Linked DNA regions of Homo sapiens. The protein of the gene in region 1 interacts with the protein of each later gene in a pairwise test. Each region holds a gene or a part of one and is shown in the gene's direction. Other genes may lie near its edges.

What was found.
Region 2: the proteins of APRT (region 1) and TTC19 interact in binary tests that used the Homo sapiens proteins (3 or more experiments, as listed by UniProt).

What each region holds. Positions count from the first base shown.
Region 1 is NC_000016.10:88,809,129-88,813,334, reverse strand, and holds APRT (adenine phosphoribosyltransferase), read left to right. Parts: upstream 1-1,406; 5' UTR 1,407-1,435; coding exon 1,436-1,515; intron 1,516-1,678; coding exon 1,679-1,785; intron 1,786-2,778; coding exon 2,779-2,912; intron 2,913-3,186; coding exon 3,187-3,265; intron 3,266-3,494; coding exon 3,495-3,637; 3' UTR 3,638-3,996; downstream 3,997-4,206. UniProt on the Homo sapiens protein: Catalyzes a salvage reaction resulting in the formation of AMP, that is energically less costly than de novo synthesis.
Region 2 is NC_000017.11:15,998,588-16,002,623, forward strand, and holds the start of TTC19 (tetratricopeptide repeat protein 19, mitochondrial isoform 1 precursor), read left to right. Parts: upstream 1-1,236; 5' UTR 1,237-1,261; coding exon 1,262-1,445; intron 1,446-1,530; coding exon 1,531-1,658; exon of another isoform or gene 1,659-1,795; intron 1,796-3,327; coding exon 3,328-3,438; intron 3,439-4,036. Other genes in the region: ZSWIM7 (zinc finger SWIM domain-containing protein 7), read right to left, coding at 932-1,007. UniProt on the Homo sapiens protein: Required for the preservation of the structural and functional integrity of mitochondrial respiratory complex III by allowing the physiological turnover of the Rieske protein UQCRFS1.

The sequences.
Region 1 (4,206 bases):
ATGTGGCAGCTTCCCCGGGGACGTGAGGATGTCAGGGTCCTCCATTTCCACCTTCCCTAGGGGTCTGGAGCCCAGGCCCCAGGCCTTGCCAGCCCTGACCACCGCACACTGCGAGGCAGCCGCCCCTACCACGCCCCTTGGCATCAGACGATGGGTCCCCCACCCGCCCTGGAACCGGGGCCCCAGCAGCCGCATGCAGCCTCCGGCCTCCCCCTCCGAAGGCTCCTGGGGGCTGCCTTCCACTGAGTGGGTTTTCCCTTCTGCAGTAACTGCCAGGCCAAAGCTGAATTGTAAAAGTTGCGAAATGATGGGCCGGGCGCGGTGGCTCACGCCTGTAATCCCGGCACTTTGGGAGGCCGAAGCGGGCAGATCACGGGGTCAGGAGATCGAGACCATCCTGGCTAACACAGTGAAACTGCGTCTCTACTAAAAATACAAAAAATTAGCAGGGCGTGGTGGCGGGCTCCTGTAGTCCCAGCTACTCGGGAGGCTGAGGCGGGAGAATGGCCGGAACCCAGGAGGTGGAGCTTGCAGTGAGCCCAGATGGCGCCACTGTGCTCCATCCTGGGCGACAGAGCGAGAGTCCTTCTCAAAAAAAAGTTGCGAAATGAAGAAAAGTCTTGGAATAGAGCACAAGGCATTTTAGCTCTGGGGATTTTCTTGAAAGGAAATTGTGTTTGGGGGGAGTTATGCCTCACACAACCCCCTGGGTACCAGTCCTCGGGCGGCCAGGGGGTTCACAGCTCCCCACCCCAAGGCTAAGGGGTCACCTGGCCTCTGCAGGCGGACAGAAGGGCTTCTGCCCTCGCGGATGCGCGCCCTGGCCTGGCCACACCTTCCGGCCTCCCTCCCCCGGGTCCGGGCGGGGAAGAGCCGCCTCAACGGCAGGGCCCATCCGCGAGAGGCCAGCGCCCCCGGCCGGTCCAGCCCAGGCCCGCCGCCTCCGCCCTGGGCTGCTCCCTCCGGGCCCTGCACCGCCCTCCTGCTACTTGGACCGCTTCCTCACGCCCTTCTCCACCCCGCGCGCCAGCCTCCCGCGCGCAGCGTGGGGATCTCGGCCAATAAAGGAGAAAGGGCGCGGCCCGTACGCGCGCCAGGTGCGTGGGCGAGACCAGCTCACGCCCCTCCTCCAGCCGCCAAGGCCCCGGCCCACAGCTGCCTGGCTGCAGTCAGAAGCGTAGCCCGAGACAAGGAAGGGCGCCTTGACTCGCACTTTTGTCCGGTTCGAACGTTCTGCTCAGTGGTGCGTGGAATGCGAGCGCGTCTTAAAATCGATGGCGCCTAGGAGTCCATGAAATACGGTACAGGCTTCCGGCGACGGATGCCCCGCCCCTCACCCACGCTCCGCCCTCCGGGGATGCCCCACCCCTCGTGGCGGTCCCGCCCGTCCCCGCGCAGGCGCGCTCGGGCTGCCGCTGGCTCTTCGCACGCGGCCATGGCCGACTCCGAGCTGCAGCTGGTTGAGCAGCGGATCCGCAGCTTCCCCGACTTCCCCACCCCAGGCGTGGTATTCAGGTGCACGCACAGGCCGCCCTCGTGGCGCCCCGACCTGCGGGCCTACGGATGGGAGCGCGTGGCCCGCGACCTCCGGGCGGGCGGGGCGGGAACCCTCGTCTTTCGCCCCCGGGGCCCTGCCCTCCTTCGGCCCCGGCGTCACCAGGCCTGTCCTTGGGTCCAGGGACATCTCGCCCGTCCTGAAGGACCCCGCCTCCTTCCGCGCCGCCATCGGCCTCCTGGCGCGACACCTGAAGGCGACCCACGGGGGCCGCATCGACTACATCGCAGGCGAGTGCCCAGTGGCCGCATCTAGGGCGCTTCCGCCTCTGCGCGCGCCGAGGGCAGCACGTGGGCTCTGCGCGTCTGCTTGGGGGAGGGCCTTTGGGGTGCTTCAGGGGGCGCCGGGACGGGCGCCGTGCTTGGGTCGCCCGGGAAGGGTTGTGAGATTGAGCCCCCGAGGCCGCCGCGCTGTGCAGGCGTCCTTCCCGCAGGTTCCGGGTCCCCAGCCCAGGACAGGCGTGACCGAGTTGCCGGGTCAGTTGGTCTCCCTGGAGTGCCCAAGCTGAATCCACAGGGCCCAGCTGCCTTGCTTCTTGTTCCTTCTGCGAGCTGGTATTGAGCGCCTGCCACGAGCCAGGCCTTCCCTGGTGAAGATCACGGAATGCCCACCCAGGGAAGGGAGGCCTGGAGGCCTCCGGGAGAGCCCAAGAGGTGGCCCAGGGAGAACAGAGTGTTCCTGGCCGTCTTGCCTCTCCTAGGGTGTGACAGCCCACTCCCTGGACACTGCCCTGAGGAAAGCGCCAGCTCTTGCTGGAGCCACAACACTGCCAGAGCTCCCTTCTCACCTCCTGCAGGAAGCCCTCCCTGACCTCCTGCCAGGCCGGGGCAGGGTTTCCCTGAGCGTCCCCCAACCATCACAGCTCAGGCCACCTCGAGAGACTCCCTTTTTAGACAGAAGCCCTGGTGCAGAGCTGCCTTTGAGAGTAAGCTGAGGCCTGTCAGGTTTCTACCAGCCCAGTTACAGATGGGCTGCTCAGCTCAGAGAGAGGGGTGGTGACTCCCCTAGGAACACACAGCTAAGAAGTGGTCCCTTAAAAGACAGACCCAGGTCTGCACTCTGACCTGGAAGCAGCTCCGGGTAGGTGATGGGTAACATTCCTTAAATGGTGCATGTCACTGGCCTTTCAGCTGGGAGCCAACCAGGTACCCCTTGCCACCGGCCAACCCTGGCCCCTGGGGATTCCCATGCTGCCGAGTCACTCCTGTCACTTACCCTGACAGGCCTAGACTCCCGAGGCTTCCTCTTTGGCCCCTCCCTGGCCCAGGAGCTTGGACTGGGCTGCGTGCTCATCCGAAAGCGGGGGAAGCTGCCAGGCCCCACTCTGTGGGCCTCCTATTCCCTGGAGTACGGGAAGGTAAGAGGGCTGGGGTGGCCAGAGGAAGGGCAGGGCCAGGCCACCGTGGCCACTCTCCCCCAGTTCTAAAAGGCCTTCCCAGGCGTGTCAAGTGGAGCTGCTGTGGTTACAGTGGCCTTGGGAGCTCAGAGAGGTTGAGACATAGGCTGGGCTCACACAGCCAGGTAACAGCAAGGTGGGGTTGGAGTCAGGGTCTAGGGTGGCAGCTGCCAAGCTGTGCAACAAAGCTGTTTTCTGCGGGAGGCTGAGGACCACACACCACTTCCCACTCCAGGCTGAGCTGGAGATTCAGAAAGACGCCCTGGAGCCAGGACAGAGGGTGGTCGTCGTGGATGATCTGCTGGCCACTGGTGGTAAGGGTCTCCCCGCAGCCAACTGCTGTGGCTCCAAGGGCCTGGTGGGAGTGGGACAGGACCTCGCTGTGTGACATGGGATGCAGCTTACTGTTGTCCAGAGGGTGCCTGGTGGCCAGGCCGACACCTTCCTCTCCCCATGCCTTCCCCTCCCCAACCCAGGGGCTGGCCTGGAGCACCTGCTCTCTGCAGCCCAGGCCAACTGGGGACCTCACCCTCCCATCCCCAGGAACCATGAACGCTGCCTGTGAGCTGCTGGGCCGCCTGCAGGCTGAGGTCCTGGAGTGCGTGAGCCTGGTGGAGCTGACCTCGCTTAAGGGCAGGGAGAAGCTGGCACCTGTACCCTTCTTCTCTCTCCTGCAGTATGAGTGACCACAGGGCCTCCCAGCCCAACATCTCCAGCTGGATCCCAGGGAAATATCAGCCTTGGGCAACTGCAGTGACCAGGGGCACCGGCTGCCCACAGGGAACACATTCCTTTGCTGGGGTTCAGCGCCTCTCCTGGGGCTGGAAGTGCCAAAGCCTGGGGCAAAGCTGTGTTTCAGCCACACTGAACCCAATTACACACAGCGGGAGAACGCAGTAAACAGCTTTCCCACAAGAGCCGTCTCCTGTCCTCCTGTTCCCCAGGGCAGGGAGCCCCAGGACAACACCAGACTTCAGCTGTACTGTGGGCATGTGCTGCTTGGCGTGATGCCCAGCAGAACCTGTCCTGGTTCTCACCTCAGGAGCTAGAACCCTCCAGGCACTGCAGGAAGAGGCCATGTGGGCCCATCTTCTAGGGGAGCAAGCGAGGGCTCTTCTGCAGATCTAGTGGCTGTAAGCATGACTTTATTAGAGTTTAGGAGGTCAGAAATACTGAAGTCAAGGTGTGGGCAGAGGCCAGTCCCTTCTGGAGGCTCCAGGGATGTCCTACTTGTCCTGCCCAGCTTCTCCAGGCT
Region 2 (4,036 bases), on another chromosome or scaffold:
ATCCTAGCATACTCTGAACACATCTTGAGATCAACCCTTCTCAAGTGATTTTGGTGAGCATAGCCAAAGAGTACCCTCTGCTGGTCAGAAAAAAAATGGTGCTTTCACAATACCCAGATTTACTCCAACGATTGCATATGCATTTAGGTTTTGTGGCTCTTAAAATGCTTTTTTTTTTTTTTTTGAGATGGAATTTCGCTCTTGTTGCCCAGGCTGGAGTGCAATGGCGCGATCTCGGCTCACGGCAACCTCCGCCTCCCGGGTTCAAGCGATTCTCCTGCCTCAGCCTCCTGAGTAGCTGGAATTACAGGCGCCCGCCACCACGCCCAGCTAATTTTTTGTATTTTTAGTAGAGACGAAGTTTCACCATGTTGGCCAGGCTGGTCTCGAACTCCTGACCTTAGGTAATCCAACTGCCTCGGCCTCCCAAAGTGCTGGGATTACGGGAGTGAGCCACTGCGCTGGGCCTACTTTTTAAAGTGTATGGAAGCATTAACTTTAATGTTAACATCAGAATTTGAGAAAAAGAAGTTTAATAATTCAAAATTTCGTGTAAAATAATCAAGAACTCCACGTTTCTATCACTCACTGTAGGCTCCCGTCCCTTCCACCCCCGGGCGGGGACCCCTCCCAGCGACCCGGCCAGCTCTCAGCACTTCGGTCCCCACTGGCCTACTCGCTCCGACGGAGGGGCTCCTGCAACTGCGCTGTACCGTAAATATTTGCTGAATCGATTTGACTTTTACTTGTTCCAATTTCGCTTTTTTGTTGTTTTGTTTTTTTGTCTTTTTACGAACAAGAGGTTTAGAGAACCACATGGAAAAAAGGCAGGGCCAGGCCCGGACACCCCGCCTCCTGCCTCCCGGCCCGGCGGTGCCCGGATGCCCCGCCCGCGCCCATGGCGCAGCCACACACGACCTCGGTCCCGTACTTCGCGCGCTCTCCTGCACCGCCGCCGCCATCTCGCTCAGGAGCTCCTCCACAACCGCCGGCAACACTACGGCCATCGCGCCGCAGGACACGCCCTCCACGACCGGCGGACCGCCGCGACGCTCCAGCTGACTGCGCCTACCTGTGGAGGATCCTGACCCCCCGCCGGGGCAGGGCGAGACGGAGTGACGTCGGGGCGCGTCATCGCGCGTGCGGACGCAGGGATGTCCTGCTCAGTCGTCAGGGCCCGGCCAATCCGGAGGGCGCTCGGCGCGTGGTCGGGGGCCAGGAGCGCGTCTGGCCTGCAGTGCGCAGAGGACGCGGCGGGAGCATGTTCCGGCTCCTGAGCTGGAGCCTGGGCCGAGGCTTCCTGCGGGCCGCGGGGCGGCGGTGCCGGGGCTGCTCCGCGCGCCTGCTCCCGGGGCTGGCAGGAGGTCCGGGGCCCGAGGTGCAGGTGCCGCCATCCCGAGTCGCGCCGCACGGCCGGGGCCCAGGCCTGCTGCCGCTGCTGGCAGGTGAGGGGCGCGGGCCGGGCGGGGCCGGCCGGGCGGGGACAGGGGCGCGGGCCGGGCCCGATGACCTCAGAGCCCCTTCCCGCAGCGCTCGCCTGGTTCTCGAGGCCCGCTGCGGCAGAGGAGGAGGAGCAGCAGGGAGCCGACGGGGCCGCTGCCGAGGACGGGGCGGACGAGGCCGAGGCAGAGATCATCCAGCTGCTGAAGCGAGCCAAGGTGAGGCGGCTCCGGGCCCTGCGCCCGGCCGAGCGCGGTAGCCTTTGTGAGCGGGGTCTTGGCGTTGCTGCGCATTACTCTCTCCGCCTCGCCGAAGAGTGGATGGAGGCTCCGCGGGTAAAATTGCCGAGAATGAGGTGGGTCATCCGAGAGGGGATTGGAATCCATCCAGGCTTTTCCGACTCTAAGGCCTGCAGTAAAACCTCTGCAGTGTCAAGTGCAAATGGAGATGGCGCCCTAGGCATCACGCTTTATGCAAACGAAATATCGGGAACGTTTTGTAGTGGTTTTATCAATTAACCAGCCTATCTGAAATGACATAATTTCGCACGTATATAGCGGCCTGAAAATGGCAACTTAGTGTTGGTTATGCGGTTCGGTTCTCCTCCTGAATTCTTCCTTTTCTCCACATCCTTTTCTATTTTTTTTTCCTCCTCTTTTCCCAAGTTATCTCATCTCTTCCATTGAGCTAAATACCTACTCGATGCCAACAACGTCCAAATTTGTATTTCCATTCTGTAGTGTGCTACTGACATGCCATTTGCACTTTAGGACCATACCTACCTCTCAGATTTAACATGCCCAAAACTAAACGATCTTTAATGCCTCCTCAACATACGCTTTCGCCATCTCTTTACTACCATCAGTTTTTCAGCCTAAAAACCTCATAGTCATTCTTAAAACTTGTGGTACCTTACCATTGCCTTCCAATACACTTACAGTCCAGCAACAAGTCCTGTTGCCAACAAATGCAAAATATTTCTCAAATCTTTCCCCTTTTGTCTATCTCCCTTGCTGTCACCCTAGTGCAAACCATCATTGCCACCAACTATGCTCCAGTAGTCTTTCCTGGCCTCCTGGCCTCTTGCAATCTATTCTCCATGCAGAAACCAAAGCGACCAAAAAAAAAAAGAGTAAATTGGATTATGTCATCTCCTTGTCAGAAAGCTCTGAATGGCTACCCACTGCATTTATGATAAAATACAAACTCCTTGCCTTGGCTTGCAACACCCCACATGATCTAAACCAGCATATACCTTGCCCACCCATTTGGCAGTAATCCTCTGGCTCACCATCCTCCCTTCACATCTATTTCTTTGCATTTCTTCCTCAAAACCATTCTCTTCAGCTTGTAGGGACTTCACTCATTCTCTACCCTCTGTTTGAGTCATTGTTCTCCCCAGGTCCTTATTTGGTTGACTCATTCTCATCCTTACTACCTCAGTTTAGCTGTCACTTCCTTGGAAGGCTTCCCTAAGTCCTATTTAGAGGAGACCCCTTATCATTCCTTTCTGTCATCTTTATAGCTCTTATCATTAGTTGTAATTAAGCTTACTTGTCCTATATGGTCACCTCCAGCCTGCAAGAAATTAGAAAGAGGATGGAGGACAAGCAGCTTCCTTATAAAATATGTTGTAAGATCACATTCCTTCTGCCTGTGTCTCTTGGCCAAAACTTCATCAGATGGCCACACCTAGCTGCAAGGGAGGCTGACCTCCCTGTCATCTCTGTAGACAATGCTTTGTACATAGTAGGAATTCAGTAAATGTCTGATGAATGAGTTAGCTTCCTTCTATCAGTTGGGATGTACAGTTGCATACACTTCTGTCTCTTAGCATATGCATCTACTATATGTTTCATTTTCTATTATTTTGTCTTCCCTTTTCAGTTGAGCATTATGAAAGATGAGCCAGAAGAGGCTGAGTTAATTTTGCATGACGCTCTTCGTCTCGCCTATCAGACTGATAACAAGAAGGCCATCACTTACACTTATGATTTGGTAACTCTTATAACCAGTCTGAACCACTGATGAGGAAGGTTGGATGGGAGGGAAGGGTAGTTAGTTCTTCTGATTTATATTCCTGACTTTCACGATGTTCTAAAACTCCTTTTCTTTTTACTGAGTTTTCTTTTGGCTTCAGTTTCATTTTTTGTTTTGTTTTGTTTTTTTGAGATGGAGCCTCACTCTGTTGCCCAGGCTGCAGTGCAGTGGCACAATCTTGGCTCACTGCAGCCTCCGCCTCATGAGTTCAGACGATTCTTTTGCCTCACCCTCCCGAGTAGCTGGATTACAGGCATGCATCACTATGCCTGGCTAAATTTTGTATTGTAGTAGAGACGAGGTTTCACCATATTGGCCAGGCTGGTCTCGAACTCCTGATCTCAGGTGATCCACCTGCCTTGGCCTCCCAAAGTGCTGAGATTTCAGGCATGAGCCACCACGCCCGGCCACAGCTTCAGTTTTTTTACCCTTGGGGTGACATAAGACCTCTCAATTCCAGACCAAAAAAAACCAGTATCATTAGCATGTTTTTTTAATGATGAGTGGACCTAGATTTGGTTTGTTAACAACAAAGTATGTGCAAGTATTTAATTCT